Linked DNA regions of Homo sapiens: region 2 is linked to region 1. Evidence: fine-mapped expression QTL. A gene starts in region 1. The other region holds a variant in brackets. All regions are shown on one strand. Distances are from middle to middle. Region 1 holds the start of TEX264 (testis expressed 264, ER-phagy receptor). Region 2 overlaps TEX264 (testis expressed 264, ER-phagy receptor).

The links.
Region 2: its variant is fine-mapped to the expression of TEX264 in whole blood (TOPMed, PIP 0.99).

What each region holds. Positions count from the first base shown.
Region 1 is chr3:51,668,526-51,673,885 of GRCh38, reverse strand. It overlaps TEX264 (testis expressed 264, ER-phagy receptor), which reads right to left and starts at 2,634. Exons shown (of 5, transcript NM_015926.6): 1 at 2,598-2,634. It overlaps RAD54L2 (RAD54 like 2), which reads right to left. Exons shown (of 23, transcript NM_015106.4): 23 at 5,226-5,360. LOC124906237 (a long non-coding RNA gene) reads left to right here and starts at 2,781. Exons shown (of 2, transcript XR_007095907.1): 1 at 2,781-3,237; 2 at 4,230-5,269. RefSeq lists a silencer at 2,469-2,898.
Region 2 is chr3:51,701,733-51,707,092 of GRCh38, reverse strand. It overlaps TEX264 (testis expressed 264, ER-phagy receptor), which reads right to left. Exons shown (of 5, transcript NM_015926.6): 5 at 2,770-3,369. The coding sequence ends at 3,077. It overlaps GRM2 (glutamate metabotropic receptor 2), which reads right to left and starts at 25. Exons shown (of 6, transcript NM_000839.5): 1 at 1-25. RefSeq lists an enhancer at 2,285-3,153. The variant T/C (reference allele first, on the strand shown) is at 2,853.

The sequences.
Region 1 (5,360 bases):
ACCTCTTCCTCCCCACAGCTGAGCCACGCCACCAGCCCAGCCTCCCCAAGCCTCAGGGACGACTGCCAGAGGGAGGACTGGCAAATGCTAGGGTCCAAACACTTACTAACGACAGGGAAACCATAAGGAACAAAAACTTGTGAGGAAAAATGTGCCTCAGGAAGAGAATTTCATAAGAAACTCTCCTTTTCTAAGTACATCTGGCCTGCAGGGACCTTGCTATCCAGCAAGCTTACCCATCCAGAACCAGAGGAAAGACCAGAGCAAAGCGGCCTGAGCAGGCAGAACAAAGTCCAACACTAAGCTTCCCAGACTTGAACCACCAATGTTAACAAGCTTCATCCCAATTTTCCAGCCCACAGAAGAAACAGTGAGTAGTAAGAGGAAAAGGCTGCTAAAAGGGGAGTCGCACAGCAGGAGGAAGTAACAATTATCCCTAAGAGGAAAAGAAGCTGTTCAAGAGCAGTCCCAGGAACATAACACAGAGGCCAGTCTGTGAGCTATTCAAGGCAGGCTGCCTAGTTCTCCAGGCAGCTTGGGGCCAGAGGCCTAACCCTCTTACACAGAGGGCTTGACCTGAGTTGCCTGGCGGGGGGGAAAAATCACAGCCCAGAGAAGACTGTTTAAAGAGGAAGGGAGCCATGTGACCCACTGGGGGGACATTCCCACCCCAATTATTTAAAAGTAATATTTAACATTTAAAAGGTTTTGAAGCTAAAAAGGCCACGCTGCAACTTTGTGGAATACTTAGCTCTGTGGAATTATTTCTTCCCTGTGGGTGCTGGGTGTTGATTTTACGCTAAAAAAAAATTGTCTTTGGAGTCAATGAGCACACAGTATTTGCTCACAAAGAGGCAAAGTAAATTTCTAAACTTTCGGTGTCAAGAAATTGAGGTGTTGCCCACTAGTCTCACCCATCTGTGCTTCTACCCATCAGTATCTCTCTCTTTTCTGCCTGTCCTACTCATCTTGTCTCCAGTAACTTTCATTCCAATTTTCTTTGATAATGATGAGAAATCTTCCACTGAATGCTTACTATACGCCAGGCACTGTCTAAATGTTGAAACACAGCTACTTCATTCACCCTCAAAGCAATCCAAAGAGGTAGGTAAGGCTAAAGGTTCAAGTAGTTAGAGGTTAAGAGACTTGCCCAAGGTAACACAGGTATTAAACAGAGCCACGTGGACCAAAATGCAGGCAACACAAGCCCAGACAGTCTGATTCCAGCCCCTCATTTCCACTTTCTCTCTCCTCTCTGGTGACTGGCTTCCAAAACGCCTGAAGCATTAAATCCTTGTTGGACATCTCTGAGCCCAAAGCTGGAAAACTCTCAGCATCTAGGCCCCCACTTGCCTTGGGAATGACAAGCCCTCACCCTGATCTGCCATCTCAGCTGAACACTTCCTGTCTCCTCAAGGAAACTTAGTATCTACCTTTCTCTTCCTCTCACTTCCCAAACTGCTCAGAAAACGGCGGGGGGGAAGAAAACCCACCTGGGGGTCTCAGAGCCTTGGTCGGCACGTGGAGAGGTAACGTGAATTTCCCCTATATTCAAGAGAAAAGGAAGAAGGTCTGGGAGCTCACCTGAAATGCCAGGCTCACTTTTAGTAACTGCTGGCATCCAGTGCGGCAGGGGCCGAGCGCTCCAGTGCTGGGAGCTGAAAGAACAGTCACCCCTGCCCAGGAAATAACCACTGAGCCAACCATCATGCCCTGATTACCGTCCTCAGGGAAAGCCTACCGGTCCCTCTAAAGCACCCTCGTCCCATTCTCAAACCCCCTGTGGAAATCAGAAGCCAAACCTAGCTTTACAATGTCAGGTCTCTTCGCTAGAGCTCTGGTCACGCCCCTCTTCCTGGAGTACTCCAATCACACTTGGCGCCCAGAAACTGCCGCTGCCGCTGACCTTGGGCAGACTGCGCCCTCCCTCTAGCCTCGGCTCCCCCTCCGCTCAGAGGCCCGGGATGGACGCGTGCGGCCGGTGCCAGCGAGCCTCAGGGAAGGCTGCGCCCAGCCAGCTTCCTGGTGCCGCTCACGTGCGCGGCGGCGGAGGGCCGGGCCCTTAAACGGCCCCCGTCCTGGGCTAAACTTCGGTGCTAGCAGAGGGCGGAAGGACTATGGAGGGTGGGGGGCCGCCGCCTCCCACTTTCGGATTCCAGCCCCTGCTCACCCCGGGCCTTGCCTATTTACTCAGAGCCTTTCTCTTCGCCCACCTCCTCACGGAGCCCCACGCACGTCTGTAACTTAAAGGACGCTAAAGTTTGCAGCCCAGGCTGCGAGGCGCGGCCTTGGGGGACGGGGGCGGAGTTAAAACGCGACTCGCGCCTCTTTCCCTCACCTCCACGGCCCCGGGGCATGCCCTGCACCGGTGGCCGCGGAAGTGGGCTGCCCGGAAGAGTAGGGGCTGCCCCAAGGTCGCATCCAGGCCCTCGGACCTGGCCGAGGCCAGCTGTGGGCAAGACAAGATGCAAAGAGCGGCCCGGGCCGCGGGGGTCACGGAGGGGACACGGAGAGTCCTGAGGTCGCGCCAGGGCGGACAGGGGGAGTCCCAGACCTACGCCCCAGTGGGTATGCCTCTCCTCTGGCCCGGCCCTCACCTCAGCAGCCGCCCGCTGCGGACGCCGATCCGCGCAGGCGGCTCAGGGTTCGGTTACGGAGCCTGCGCGCGCCCGCCGCGCACGCTCGCTCCGCCCCCTCTCGCGGCGGGACATGGCCGTGGCCGTGGGCGCGTGCGCGCGGGACCCGGAGGGCGGAGGCCTGCCCCGCCCCGTCTCCATGGCAACGGGCGTGTGCCTAGCCCCAGCGCTGGCTGCGGCGGAACCCACGGCGTACCTTCCCGCCTCCAACAAACTATCCGGTTGCTGAGGTTGATTTAGCAACACCCCAGGGCATCTGGGTTGGCAGGAGCACCACAGTGACAGCCTGGCCCAGGCTCGGGTACGGGAGGCAGCCCAGTGGCCCGCAGTAGAGGGCCAGGCTGGGGACCAGGGAGCTGGGGCTGAGGAGAATTTGTACAGCCTAGGGAGGCGCAGCACAGCAGTATCAGCCTCTGGCATTTGTACCACCTTTAGTCCTGCCACTTTCTCTCACTGTGGCTTCGCAACAGACTTGGGAACCAAGAAAGGCATAGGTGAGGAAGCTGAAGCCCAGTCTGGGCTCGCGGAAGAAACTGGTGGATCCAACTTCTGCATAGCGCAAATATCTGCTTCCTGCCTCCACCCACCCATTCCCACTTCCGTGAGTATATTCATCCATCCAACACTTATTATTACTCCTTGCCAGGACAGTTCTAGGGGCTGGGGATAGAGTGAACAAAACCAAGGTTCTGCCCTCCTGGAGTTCACGTTCCATGGGAATGCCCTTCTTCCAGGCTCCTCCCTCAGTGCCCAGGTTGTGGCTGTGGGAGGCTGGTCTACCTTTGTGGTTTAGCGGTAACTTACGTGATTCCCACGTCAAGTGTAAGCTCCTTGATGATTGGTTCAATCTTCACCTCAAATTTCTGAGGACCTACAAACTACAAAGCACTCTTCTAGGGGCCCAAAGATAAAACGCTCCCCTCGTGAAAATCCCGGACTTTTGGTGGGAGGTGGGGAAGGTGACAACTATGCTCATAAGCTTGGCTACAAGACCGGCGAGGCCAAGAGCTACTTTGGTATCCTGACAAGGACTGATGTTTGGGAGGGGGATCCAGCAGATGGGAACACCACGAAGGTGGTGGTGGGAAAAGTCAGCAGTCACAGGGTGGTTCACCTTGTGGATCCCACTACTGCACCAGCAAAGAGCAGGCTGGGCACACAGAGACAGTCAAAATCCCAGCTTCCTTTCCCTCTGCTTCACATTCTTCCTTCCGCAGGCAGGGGAGTTTGAACCTTATCCACAGGGCCAAGCCTGTCCCAGCCCTCTAGGCAAACTGGCAGAACAGGCAGCTGGCCCCTCACAGGCACTCCGGGCTGGGCCAGTGCAGGTCGCAGCAGTTGTTTTACCTATGAACATCAAGCACATGGTCAAACCCTCAGCTTAGGTGCCCCAGGCAGGCGGGCTACACACTTGGTAGCATTTCCTTTGACACAAGGAGCAGCCATGGCCCGGGCTCAGAGACTGACAGCCTCTGCCTGCAGGGTCTGCGTGGTCATTTCTCCTGCTTCTCAGAAGGTGGTGAGCTTTTCCCAGGAAACCATTATAAGGAAGTGCCCATTCTTTATCTTGTTCTCTCTGCTCACTTCCCTTAGCCTGATTGGGGAACTCTAGAGCCCCACATCAGAGTTCAACATGTGCCTCAGGAGCTTCAGCACCTCTTTTGTGGGAGGAGAGTCCGCTGGTGACTGGGGCTGCAGGCCATGACATCAGCCTGCCCAGCTTCACCTCAGGCTGCTTCCAACAGTGCCAAGTGAGGTCCCTTGGCAGGATCCCTGCAAGGCAGCGGCTGGCCACCAGGAGGCAGCAGCCTACTCTACAAGGCACTTTCTTCATTCCAACCCCTTGTAACAGGTCTGAGGAAACCTGTTCGCCCAGCCATGTGCTGCAACCATCCTCCACTCCCAATCTTATCTCCCAATAGCACAGATTCCCCTATCATGAGTCCAGACTTGGCCTTCATCTCCTCTTGCCTTCCTCTGTCCAAGGAATCACTACAGAGATTCTTTCTCTATCCTTCTTTGTAAATTTCCAGAAAATTGTTTCCCCAGGGCCCCTCCCCTTGAAGAAATTAAACAGGAAGCTGGAGTAGACTGTCCCTTCTTTCCCCCACCTCTCACACTCCAAAGCTCTGTTTAACTCTGTGGGCCAGTGGCTAGATTCCCCAACATGGATGACAGAGAATACACATGCAATAAGAATGTTTTCGCTGCCACCAGCCACTCACAGACACACTGTCTCCCACCCTCTGAAGGCATTGTGCCCAATCCCCAGCCACTCACTGTCTAGTCAGGGCTGCCCCTGCAGGACTTGCCTTGGCTGAGGACCAGCTAGCTTCAAGCCACTCTGAAGTCAGCTTGCTGTTTCCCCTGGAGCCTGGTAATACATCCTTCTTCAGGTGAACAAAAGCAGAAAAAGCCCAGTGAACCCCACTGCAACAAAGAGCCTGCCATCAGTCTTCCTTCTGTTCCTGCCTATCTCATCACCCAAGGGCTATCCCAGAGCCCACTATGTTCTAAGATCTATTCCTTTCACCACCACCCAGCCAAACAACTATCCAGACAATTCCTTGATCAAACAACACTGCCTTCTTGAGTTTAAATTTTATTTTACAAAAAGAGAAATAAAGAAAACTGATAGGCAGTTATACTGACTTACAATTGTTCTGTTTGCTTTTTTTTAAAAAAGTGACATGAAACACAAGTAAAAATAAATACGTCATAGAA
Region 2 (5,360 bases), 33 kb before region 1:
TCGCTGGCTCGCTGGCTCTGCGCTCTCCGCCCGCCCGCTCGCCCCGCCGCTTTCAATCGCGGCCCGCCCCGCCCCGCCCCCGGCCCCGGCCCGCCCCCAGCCCCTCCTCCGTTCCTCCAGACGCCAGGTCTCCTGCTCCCAACCCAGCCTCCGCCTCCTCTGGACACTCCGCGCTCCAGCTTTTCTGGGGACCTCAGGGCCTGGAGCTGTCCGCCTCGTGGTGCTGAATCCCCGAGCGCTCTCGCTCTGCGCTGGAGCGGGTGCTTCGTGGCCCACTCCGCCCCATAGTCAGACTACCACCTAGAGAGCATAGGTGGGGGGCGGGGGGATGCCACGGGGCACGGGGTGGGGAAGGTCACTGCGCCCCGACAGGTGCCCATAGTGCTACTGCAGAGTGGAGGAGCTGGCCTTAGTGCAAGGGGTGCCTCTGGGGGATAGGTAAAGGGGCGCGTGGGAGACGGGTGGAGTCTATTCTCCCCACTCAGCGATTTCAGCTGGGTCCACATCCCAGGCCTGAGTTGGAGGCATGTGTCCTCTGCCACTTTTGAGACCTGGAGCCAGAGTCACTATGAGGAAAAGATTGGGGGAAGGGAGAGGTCAGAGGAGAATGGGGCCTCCCCTTCCTTCCTGCAGATGCCCTTTAAACCTGCCACCCACTCCCATGTAAAAAGGGTATTTAAGCAAGGAGAGAGCAACCTGCAGGAAGGGCTGCAGAACCAAGTACTAGGGTCAACCCTGAGGGAGTGTTAGGGATGGCAGGGGCATCTGGGAGGGGAGGGGCCTAGGGAAAGGCTTCTGGAACTGGCTGCTGCGTAGGAGGGAGTGAGAGCTGGAGCCCAAGCAGAGGGAGGACAGCTCTGAGAAGATTCTCTTGACTCTTCCCTCCCACAGCAGGATGGGGAAGGACGCCCCTGGGTAGAGGGTAGTGGATAAGCTGTAGTGCCAGACTGTGCTGAAGGAATGGGGATTAGAGAGCCTGTGCTATCTGCCCCTAACATGTGCACACACTAACAAGTGCCAAGGGGCATGGCATCCCTACACACATTCCCGACACTGCCCTTTCTTCCACAGGTGTCAGTGGAAGCAAGGCCAGCTCAGATACATGCTAATGAACATGCCAAGCCCAGACCCCTCAGGCACACACACCCACATGTGCGTGTGGCAGTCCGTAGGGGTGCGGGGGTGATCACCAAGGACGAGCTTTTTCCCTGGACACAGAAACCTGATGTCCTGCTGCTGTGGAAAGAATACAGCTTTGAAACGAAACAGACACATAAAACCCAAACAAACACAAGCCCCATCACTAACAGGAGACAAGGTGGCAGTGGGAGACAGACATGCTGTCTTCCACCTCCAACTCTGCCACCGGCTGCTCTCACCCTCTCTGGCTGCCTCAGAGCAACAGCTCCCTGGGGTAGGTGAGCAATGGGCCAGGCCTCTGGAGCAGAGGGGTTGACAGCAGGAGGGTGCTGAGGTGAGGAGTCACACACTCCTTCTAGCCACACTCCCAACCTGCTCAACAAGTCAGCCTCACAAAAGGCACAGGGCTGTAAACACAGATATGGCTGTGTACAGCATCAGCCAGAAAAGCCCATGATGTGGCCTGCAGCAAACAAGCTGCACAGTCGCAGCACATGGACACACAGTTACACACAGCTAGGCAGCCACCACTCCCAGCTGTGTGCACACGGATGAGGACATACACTTAGCCTTACACAGTTGTAAATGTGGACATGGCCACATGCATAGTACACATAAACATGCAACCACACACAGCTATACTTGTAGACAGCCATAATACACATGGGCACACCCCTGCCCCTAAGAACATGTGACCATGTCTACACACGGCTGCACATGTGGACACAGCCACATATATACAGCTGCTCACACAAGGACATGCCACAAATAGCTGTCCACCAAGACATGTCCACACATACATGGCCATAATTATGGATATACGGCTGCAGGACACATAGCAAATGTGTGTTTTTATATGTGGACACATAGCAAAACACATAGCTTTATACATGAACGTCATGAACATCACCATACACACAGTTGTACAGACACAGCCACACACAGTTGTACATGAACAAAGCCCCCATAGAGATGCTGTTAGCCAGCCTCACATGCTCCTATAATACAACCATACACAGACACAAAGCACAGCAATACACACACACACACACACACACACACACACTCACACAGGCACACAGCCATCCACACAGACTCAGCCATGCTCAGGTACAATCATACCCTGATGCTCACCTGGGCACAGCTTTACCCAAGCAGCCCCATCCATCCGTGGTTACACAGAGCCAAATGCATGAGCGTGGGTGCACATGCACACACACAGGTACACAGCCACTGGCAGGCACAGTGGGGGAGCCTCGCCTACTGGGGAAGTACCAGCGTGCAGGCACACTAGTCACAGACACAAAGGCATCCCTTGGAGGCAGATGAAGACAGGCTGTGAGCTCCCCATTCCTGAGCCCTGAAGGGCACCCCATACTCAGCTCTCACCCAAGCCAGGCTCTGCTTGCTCTCTGGCAGCTGCAATGGAGGGGCAGCTGGCCACTGGGGTCACAGAGCAGGACGTGGAGGATCTCTAACTCCCCTCCTCCCCCAACCCCAGGGTACCTGCCATGTTCCTTCCATTCTTTGTCCTGGGGAGGGGAGGCTCCTTCCCACTCCCAGCCTATCTGTACAGCCATCCCCCCACCGCCCCCAACCAAGGCAGAACAAACAAATACACAACCCAAATCCAGGTGAAACAAGTAAATCATTGGCTTTATTCTGGGTCCTGGAAGCTCCACTGTGAGTCTGAAAAAAAGACACAACAGGGG[T/C]GGCAGCCCTGGGGGCTGGTGCAGAAAATAGTCCCTGGCTCCTCTGGCCCTGGGAGCCTAAAGGGCAGTGAGGAGAAGGCTTAGCAAGAGGCCTGGAGCAGGGGAAGTCAGGTCCCTCAGGAACCCCTCCTCCCCCAGAGGAAGGAGGAAGAGGGCTGGAGAGTCTGCTGGAGAGTCTGCTCAGTTCCTCAGCAACTGCACTGCAGGAGGGTGCAGGCCATGGGTTACTCCTTGCCCTTCTCAGGGGCAGTGGGCTCCCAGAGCCACTTGGTAGTCCCCAGGGGCTCAGTCCCAGGGTCCAGCCGTGACTCCCCTAAGGGCCCCTCGCCCTCCAAGTCCAGCTCCTCAAAAGAGGAGCCGCTGGCACCTGACTCGCTGTAGCTGTGCTCGCTGCGGGTGTCACCGTCATCCCAGCCACGGCTGCTCGCCCCAGGTGACAGTGTGGCAGCTGAAGTCTCCCGGCTGCCAGGGCTCACTTCCAAGCTTACAGAACTCGTGTCACTCATTGTGTCAGCTCCTATGACCAGGAAAAGGGAGCACAGGTTAGCTAGGACCACCCCACCCCCTCCTCCAGGGAGAGGCAACTCAGCACGCAGTGCACTCATGAATAATGCAGCCTCCCGGGCTCAGGGGGCTTGCTCCAGCTGCCCTCTGCCCTCTACCCTGACTGGGGCTGCACAGACAGGGCAGAGGGAAAGAGCTGGGAGGAAGGGAGGGAGGGAAGGAGGGAGGGAGGGAGAGAGGGTGGGAGGAGGCAGCTGTGCACTCTTCTCCCCACTCTAAATTAGCCTCAGCTCCCTGCACTTCCACAAAGCCTGCTGCCCTCCCCCCACATTTATTAAGGGCCACTCAGCCCTGAGGTGAGGAGCTGAGGTAGAACAAAGAGACACAAGTAGTGTCCTCTCCACCTTCCCCCACCCCCACTTCAAGCTTGGAAAGAGATGTGTCCAGGGCCAGCTACAGAACATCACCCACAGGGCACGAGGACTGCAGAATGCAGCAGGAGGCCCCTCTGCAGCCCTCCCCCGTGCAGGGCTCCCAGGAGCAGCATCCAGGGAGTCAGCAGGCCCCTGCCTCTGGTACACACCAAGTCCCAGTTGAGGAGGGAGCTGAAGTACGAGGAGGATGGAGAAGGCCTGAGAAATACTCAACCAGCTGCAAGGAGGAGGGTGCTGGGATGAAACATGTTAAGGGTTTTCTCTCCCTATGCCTGGGTCGACCCTGAGAAACCCTTACCCACCCCACCCCCAATGACTGGTGCTTCCTGAGCCACAAGATAGCAAAAGGGGATGATGAGAGCACTCTGCTGGTGGTTGGGGTGCCCCAAACCAGTGCTGAGCCAGGTTGATGGCCCAAACTCCTTCTAACCTGCTCCTTCCACCCCCAATACATCCTCCAAGCAAGCAGCCCCTTCATCTGCCCTGTCCAGGAGCAACCCCTGGGTTCATCTCCCTGGATCAGAGGCACTGAATGCAGGCTGGGGTGGCAAGGAGGAACACATGGCTCAGGCTCGCTGTGTGCAGGAATCCAGACTGGGAGAAAGTGGATCTGCTACCCTTCCTGTATGATGGGGAGAGGGTCAGCTGTCAAACATCACAGAAGGTGAGGGGTTAGCCAGCTTCCCCAGCCACTGTCTCCATGGTGTTGGAGCCAAGCCAGGTGCAGCTGGGGTCTGCTTGGCGCCTGGACTCAGCCTGGGGCTTTCCTTGAGCCTCAAATGGGGCCTAGGTTGGGGGTGGGAGAATTAGGAGAGGGGGGAATTTGGGGTCTCTCCCTACCCCCACCACCCACTCAGCCCCCAGAATATGCCCTCTGGGCGCTACTGGCAGAGGTGAGGTGAGCCCTAGAAGCCCAGGCTGCTGGCCCAGGGCCCTCCTCTTGCTGAGGCCCCAGGTGTGGCTCCCAGGACAGAAGCCTGTGAATGAGGTGGTCAGGGAGCTGGGGGAGCTTTAAGTTTTGGGTAGTTTCTTCTGACCAGGGGACAGGATGCCAGGCCCTCACTGCTCCTTAAATAATGATCAGTGCCCCAGGGACCGCAGGCCTGAAAAGAGCAAAGGAGGGAGACAGTTTCTCCCTGGCCCTATTAAACTGTATGTTCTGTCTGCCCACCCACCCAATGGCTCTCTTGGGACCCCAGGTATAGGAATGTGCCTGCTTCCCAGCATGCTACCTCCTACCACCCAGCTCCTAGGCTAGGAATGTTCAGAGGAAGGAGCCTAGGGGTGCCTCCTTCAGGCCAGGACAGCCTGCTGAAATGAAGACAGCCCCTGGAGACATATATACACTTCAAGCAAAGGAATTCAGCTGGAGGCCAGGCACGGTGGCTCACGCCTGTAATCCCAGCACTTTGGGAAGCTGAGGCAGGTGGATCACATGAGGTCAGGAGTTCCAGACCAGCCTGGCCAACATGGCAAAACCCCATCTCTACTAAAAATACAAAAATTAGCCGGGCATGGTGGCAGGCACCTGTAATCCCAGCTACTCAGGAAGCTGAGGCAGGAGAATCGC